Linked DNA regions of Homo sapiens. The protein of the gene in region 1 purifies or fractionates together with the protein of each later gene. This does not show direct contact. Each region holds a gene or a part of one and is shown in the gene's direction. Other genes may lie near its edges.

What was found.
Region 2: the proteins of UTP6 (region 1) and UXS1 purify together in Homo sapiens (co-immunoprecipitation; one large-scale study listed by IntAct). This does not show direct contact.

Annotation. Positions count from the first base shown.
Region 1 is NC_000017.11:31,891,464-31,895,283, reverse strand, and holds part of UTP6 (U3 small nucleolar RNA-associated protein 6 homolog), read left to right. Parts: intron 1-272; coding exon 273-314; intron 315-546; coding exon 547-639; intron 640-2,489; coding exon 2,490-2,537; intron 2,538-2,960; coding exon 2,961-3,024; intron 3,025-3,820. UniProt on the Homo sapiens protein: Part of the small subunit (SSU) processome, first precursor of the small eukaryotic ribosomal subunit.
Region 2 is NC_000002.12:106,121,171-106,124,990, reverse strand, and holds part of UXS1 (UDP-glucuronic acid decarboxylase 1), read left to right. Parts: intron 1-1,899; coding exon 1,900-2,021; intron 2,022-3,820. UniProt on the Homo sapiens protein: Catalyzes the NAD-dependent decarboxylation of UDP-glucuronic acid to UDP-xylose. Necessary for the biosynthesis of the core tetrasaccharide in glycosaminoglycan biosynthesis.

The DNA of each region.
Region 1 (3,820 bases):
TGTAGCTGCATGGGGTGTTTTATATGCTTGAAATATTTCATGGAATAATTTTTAAGTGAAGCATGTAATTATAAGCTTGTTAATTCTGTTTAAGTTTTATAGCTAAGTGAATTTTAAGTGAGTTCTAGACATTTATTGTAAATTATGTGATAGCACATTATTTTTTATTTTATATTCTCGATTTTTGTTTTATGACTTTAACTAAATTTCCAGTATTTAAAAGGTTTTAGATTTTCTAGCTTCTCATTTTTTTGTATGTTTTTCTTTCATAGTATGAAATTAATCTTTTGGAGCTGATCCAGAGAAGAAGAACAGTAAGTAGAAGATTTTCTAGAAGTTGGAGAAAAATACAGAACTAAGCAGTATGGCTGTATAGTTAGGACTTGTGTTTGGGAGACAGTGTTGATAAAACTGTGGTGATATGCCTATAATGGATATTTGTAATTATTTGTTTGCTTCATCAGTACCATTAAGTGGTCAAGTAGGAATGCTGTTTTGGACAAATATGATTAAGTTGAGGCTCTGTTTTTTTATGTCCCCCTTTAGCGCATTGGATATTCATTTAAGAAGGATGAGATTGAGAATTCTATTGTACACCGGGTACAAGGTGTTTTCCAGCGTGCCTCAGCAAAATGGAAAGTGAGTGATCAAGGCATCCTTAACTTTATGAGATGTGAAGATAAGTATTATACATATTGTATTAGGGATTCAAATGCAGTTTTCTATTTTTATCTTGGGTATCTTTATACTTACTCTAATGATGGTATCATTACTCAAAACATTTTTTGAGCCACTTAACAAACCAGTAAGAAAATTGATCTTATTACCTTATAGTTATTCTATGAGGACAGTGCTGAAAACAGTGTATTTGATACATTACTAAGGATTGGAAATTTGGGAGATATTTGTATATATTTGTAAGTACACTGAAGACTTAGAGCTAGAAAATAAATGGTTATGTAGGGGCAATACCTCAGAAACTTGATTTTTTTTTTTTTCTTTTTTTTTTTTTTTTGAGATAAGGTCTCACTGTGTTGCCCAGACTAGAGTACAGTAGGGTGATCTCGGTTCACTGTAACCTCTGCCTCCCAGGCTCAAATGATTCTCCCACCTCAGCCTCCCCAGTAGCTGGGATCACAGGCGCATGCCACCGTGCCTGGCTAATTTTTGTATTTTTGGTAGACATAGGGTTTCGTCATGTTTTTTAGGCTGGTCTCGAACTCCTGGGCTCAAGTGATCTGCCCACCTCAGCCTCCCAAAGTGCTGGGATTACGGGAGTGTTTGGGATTGGGTATATTATATGAGAAGTATTTTGGATTCTTGGTAATGACAAATTTTATATTGCTACCCCAGATTGAGATTCTTTAAGAACTGCATTAAACCAACTGGATAGATAACAAAGTTTTTTTGGAGCATTGTGAGTGGGAGTTGGGGGAAAGGTTGAATTATCATAGTTAAGAGATCGGAGGCCTTTGTGAGGAAGAGCCAGATAGGATGAGAGGTGACTGGATTTTCTGAAATCTGCTTCTTTTTTTTTTTTTTTTTTTTTGGTGGGGGATGGAGTTTTGCTCTGTTGCCCAGGCTAGAGTGCAGTGGTGTGATCTTGGCTCACTGCAACCTCTGCCTCCCAGATTGAAGCAATTTTCCTGCCTCAGCCTCCCCAGTACCTGGGACTTCAGGCACGCACCACCGCGCCTGGCTAATTTTTGTATTTTTAGTAGACAGGGTTTCACCATCTTGGCCAGGCTGGTCTCAAACTCCTGACCTCAGGTGATCCACCTGCCTCAGCCTCCAAAAGTGCTGGGATTACAGGCCTGAGCCATTGTGCCTGGCTTTTTTTTTTTTTTTTTTTTGAGGTGGAGTCTTGCTCTGTCACCCAGGTTAGAGTGCAGTGGCACACAATCTCGGCAGCTCACTGCAACCTTCGCCTCCTAGGTTCAAGTGATTCTTCTGCCTCAGCCTCCCTAGTAGCTGGGATTACAGGCACATACCACCACACCTGGCTAATTTTTTTTGTTTGTTTTTTTGAGTTGGAGCTTCCCTATGTTGCCCAGGCTGGAGTGCAGTGGCCCGATCTCGGCCTCCCGGCTTCAAGCGATTCTCCTGTCTCAACTTCCTGAGTAGCTGGGATTACAGGGGTCTGCCACCAAGTCCGGCTAATTTTTTTGTATTTTTAGTAGAGACGGGGTTTCACCATATTTGACAGGCTGGTTTTGAACTCCTGACCTCAAGTGATCAATCCGCCTTGGCCTCCCAATAATCTTTGTAATTTTAGGTTAGGTGGGGTTTCACCATGTTGGCCAGGCTGGTTTCAATCTCCTGACCTCAAGTGATCCGCCCGCTTCGGCTTCACAAAGTGGTGGGATTACAGGTGTGAGCCACCGCATCCAACCTGAAATTTGCTTGTTTTTAGCAAAATTAATTAATGCAAAGGTGTATTATATGTAAAGGTCAAATTTGGGCAGCTTACTACATTGCTTTTCTTGCAGGACGATGTTCAACTTTGGCTCTCCTATGTGGCTTTTTGTAAGAAGTGGGTGAGTAAAGCCATGCATGTCTTGCTTCCTCTGACCGTCTTTTTGTTAATCTGCCCTTTAAGCTTCATGCCAGATGTTTTTTCCTGAAGTGTAGGGTTAACATGAAAAAAGAACCCAAGAAGGCGGAACATCAATATAACATTGGATATCTGAATGACTATGGTTTCCAATTCAATTGAAAAGAATATAATTTTTACGTGTGTTTGTTCAATACAGTTGACTTTTTAAAAAGATATTTAAAGTGTTTAGTGGTTTAATTGAGGTAGAAAATTTTGAGGGTCTGTGTTCGTTTATATATCCCTAGCAATAGCATGTCATGCTCCATTGGATTTTACAGTTGGTAAAGTTAGGGTACATATTACTTAGAGAGTAAGATCAATGATTTATCTGTGCAGGAAGTAGAAATATTTTCCTTTTTTACAGGCTACTAAAACTCGACTTAGCAAGGTATTCTCTGCCATGTTGGCGATTCATTCCAACAAACCAGGTATGGTGAAATCTTTGTCAATTTTTCTATGTTTTATTTAGACTCAAGCCATTTTGGATTTTATTTCGATTGATGAATCTAAGAGAAATTATTTTGAGGACTTGAGCTTAGGCAGTTGGCCTCAGCAGTTTTTCTTACTGAATAGCTGCCTCATAGTTCACCCCTGCCTACTATATACTAGTTACTGTCCTAGGTGTTGTATCTGCAGGCAAGAAGGACTGTATTTCTTTTTTTTTTGAGACGGAGTCTCGCTCTGTCGCCCAGGCTGGAGGGCAGTGGTGTGATCTTGGCTCACTGCAACCTCCGCCTCCCAGGTTGAAGCAATTCTCCTGCCTTAGCCTCCTGAGTAGGTGGGATTACAGGTGCCCGCCACCACGCCCAGCTAATTTTTGTATTTTTAGTAGAGACTGGGTTTTACCACGTTGGTCAGGCTGGTCTCTCGAACCCCTGACCTCGTGATCCACCCGCCTTGGCCTTCCAAAGTGCTGGGATTACAGGCGTGAGCCACCACTCCCGGCCAGACTGTATTTCTTTTTAGATGATGGCAAAATAAACTTTTGAATCCTTTGTGGGACATTTTATTTGGAGGCAGTCAAATCTGAGGAATTTTAGAAGCTTAAAGGGGAAAATATCAATATAAATTTTAGAAGAGTGCTGGTACAGAGTAGACTCATGTTTTGTAAGAGAAATATTTCTCTTGTGAATAATGTATAAATGGTCTAGTTGATAGTGGAGGGGCCTCAGCACCTATTCTCAGGGTATTAGGCTTAATCAGATATCTTATACCACACAAGAC
Region 2 (3,820 bases), on another chromosome or scaffold:
AGGAGAACTGCTTAGCTGATACAGCGGAAGCCAGGTTTTAGTATGATGTAATTTTTCTATTTTACATTATTATTGTGGACAAGAGAAGGAAGTAAGAGGGTAAAATCAGAAGAGACTTTTTTTTAATTAAGGAAACCAAATGAAAAAAATCATAGCAACAGAGAAATTCTTCTAAATGCAGTGATATTCTTTGTAATCTCTATGAAAAGGTAGTTCATTGTCTACTTTTTTGAAGTCCTGGGCAGTTATTAATAAAAGAGCAGAGTGTGTCCCTCCCTACCTATGGGGTATGGTATCTGTCCAGAGGGGAACAGTGACATCTTTCCCACAGCCATCCTGCTTCCCCTACTCATCTCATTTATTATCTGCATGTCTGACAGGAGCCTGTGTTCCTTAGGCTTCCTAAATAATTGGAGAGTGTAATTTATGGAAGTCACCAGGTGCTCTCCTCTGACCTTGAATAACCAAAGTAAACTTTTGTGGAGTATTTGCTTAGTGTCTTAGCCTCACAGAATGCTGGAAAGGGGAGATGATTGGAAATTATTTTTGACTCTAGGTCTTTACTTTTGTATTAACAATGTAAGCTGTCCCTGTTTTATTCCACGGTGATTTTGTGAGGGGACTTATTTAGAAGCTTGGCATCCTGGGCATTTCAGTCCAGACGGTGCCAGTCCAGGGACAGATGGGCGTACCCAGCCTTTTCTTTCTTGTCCTTTGTCAAATTTATGACCATCTTTTTTGGAGGGTAGCTTGCCCAGCTCTTGTTAAAGATCCCCAGAAAAAGGTCTGGGATCAATCATCTGGTACATTCTGTGAATTTAAGTCAATGGTTCCTTTCTCTCAGGAAGTATTTTCCTTAGAACTTTTCTCTCACTGAGTAGTGAGAAGTTTGCTCTTTGAAAGGGAATTTTAAACCACAGCAGCAGATACATAGACCTTTCTTTGCAGCACACTTCTGCATTGCTGCGGAGGCTGTGCTGACCCAGAGGGATCGGCTGAGCAGACAAGTGGCAGGATACCTGTCTGTTTACCTCCCTGCACCTGCTCAGGCCCACTGAGTCCCAAGTCAGACTTCAGGGGTAAGATAAACAAGATGGGAATTTATAACAATGCATCTTTTTGTCCAGATTTCGTGGCAAAGACTTATACATTTTATATCATAGTTGTACTCAAGTATGTATAAAATTCTTGGTGTACTAAATAAATTAGGTGTATATTCATATTCCAGAAATATACTTGTGTGAATAAAAGAATTTGTTACGTGTTTTCTTCCAATAGTCTCTTCCCCTGGTATGTCTTAAAGTGTGATTGATTTATACGCTAGAGAAACAGGAATTGGGAGTGTAAAATGAGGGCTAGAAGAACAGGCACCCATTTGCCAGGGGCACCCCGTCCCTCCACCTGCCCTACAGGAGCCTCCACGTTGACTTGTCACGGGTCCCAGATTTGTTCTGCTGATGGCACATGTCAAAGTCATCATGTTCCAGAGATGCTGCGTTTTTCATTTTTTTTCAATAAATACATGATTTGCTCCAGTTATCAACTTTATAAATATAAAACAAAACCACATATCTCTTCACATAGATTCTATTTAATTGTAATTTGTGTAGCACTCTGAAAGTTAAGAACAATTTACGGAAGAGAGGGAAGACTTAAAATTGGGAGACCTGATCTTTTTCTTTTTTTTTTTCCCCTGTAAGTAAAATATTGTCATTGCTTAATATCATATCCTACTGGAACTCAAGAGAATGGACTGGAAACCTGAGGTTGCCTCTTTAATACATCTCTCCATCTCTAAATGGGTCTTTCCGAAGTTCCCTTTTGCATCATAAATATGCATTATTGATATGAACTGGAAAAAGGAAAGATGAAAACAGTCTCACTTTTCTCCCATCGTAGATCCTGAAGTCCACCCTCAAAGTGAGGATTACTGGGGCCACGTGAATCCAATAGGACCTCGGGCCTGCTACGATGAAGGCAAACGTGTTGCAGAGACCATGTGCTATGCCTACATGAAGCAGGTATTTCACCAGGGTCTAGGCTTGCGGTTTAGGCGTGCTGAGCACCCTGACCTCAGATGTAAAGTGTTGTAAAGGAATGAATGCCATGACTGATTTTGTCTGGGGATAGGTGTTTGGGAAGCTCAGTTTCCCAGTATTATAAATTAATGGTATTATCAACAGCTTTTTCCATGTATCTCCTTATTTTAAAAATGATTTCCTAGAGATCAATTCTTGGGTTTGGAATACTATTTTATGGCTATGAACAGAATGCTTCTTCATTGCCAGTTGCTCACCAGCAGCTAAGAAGTACCTCTTTTCCTGAAGCCTCCAAATCAATGGATCTTCTTTTTTTACTTTTCTATCAATTAAGTAAAAAAATGGATGCGTTATTGCTGTAATTTGAACCTCTTTATTGTTATTGATATTTATTTACTGTTATTTCATGCTTTCTTCATTAGTCATTGTTGTGCTGATGATATTTTATGTGACAGATTTGGTCACCTGCATGTTATAGCAGAAATTGCTCACAGACCAAGAGGCCGAGGTTGCCACACTGGCTGTGCTGCTGTGTGACTCCAAGATTTAAGCCGTCATTCTCTCAGTTCTTATCTCTGACACAGGGTTTGTGAAGCCTGCCCTGCCCATCTCAGGGTGGTGCAGGAGCCAATGAACTGTGCAGAGAAGGTGGAGGCCTGGGCACAGGATATCCCATTCATGTTCTCACTGAGTGTGTCCTTGGGCTTGGGTCTGAATTTTCACATCCTCATGAAAATGCCCTCTGGTATAGTGGGACATGCAGGTAAATCAACATGGCTGTGGAACGTTGGTCCAGGACAGGCTGTTGGTAGATGCAGTGTCTGTTTCTGGGAGCAATGCTGTCAGGCCCAGGGCCCAGTCTGCAGGTGAGCCTGGGGAACTGTCGGCTATGTGCTCTGTAGGAGGGGCAAGTGTCATCAGCATGGCCAGCATCCAGGAGTTTTCCTGACTGTCTGTCTCAGGCCCCGGCAGAGCCCCAGTCAAGCATGTGCCAAGGGCCAGGTCTCCTGTTCCTGACCTTGGGATGAGAGTTTAATCGACTTCCCTTCCCGTGGTACCACAGAGGACAGGGCAATGTAAAGCCAGGTAGGCTCTCTGAGGGGTAGGAGAGAATGTCGAGGACTCTCTTTCTCATCATGTGTTTAATGAAATGCCAGCATTAAAGATGCATAAATTAACCTTATGCTATTGTTTATATTTAAACTTTTCTGCTTTATTTCTTGGCCAGAAGCAGAACTAATTGCCTTCTAAGCGACTTTAGTCTGTTGGCTTACATTATCCACTTCCTCTATGAAATGCCGATCAGTTTTAGTAGGAACATACTTTCATCATTTTGGGGCCCAGAATATCTTGACTCAAAAGTTTCAGATGATCTTCCAGACACACAGGACCACTCTGTGTGCATGGGTACTTAGGAGTACTGACTAGAGTGTCAGGGGTACATCATTGCATTTTATTCTAGAATGTGTTCCAGGAGTGATATGATTCTCAACTGTTTTCTTTTGCTTTCAGTCCTATGATTGTATTTCTTACCTAGTGAATTTTTATATAGGTAAAGCTGGTGGACAAATGGGACATTTTGATTGAGCTTTTAGTTTTCATTAAATGATTATTCGGCTAATGTAGTTGATAACTTTATGGGTATACCTATTGCCTTAAGTATAAGCTTGCGATAATTATGGTATTTGGCAATAATAGAAGCAGCACTTCTTGAGCACCGACTGTATGCTAGGTACTGTTCTAGGTATTTGGCAATAATAGAAGCAGCACTTCTTGAGCAC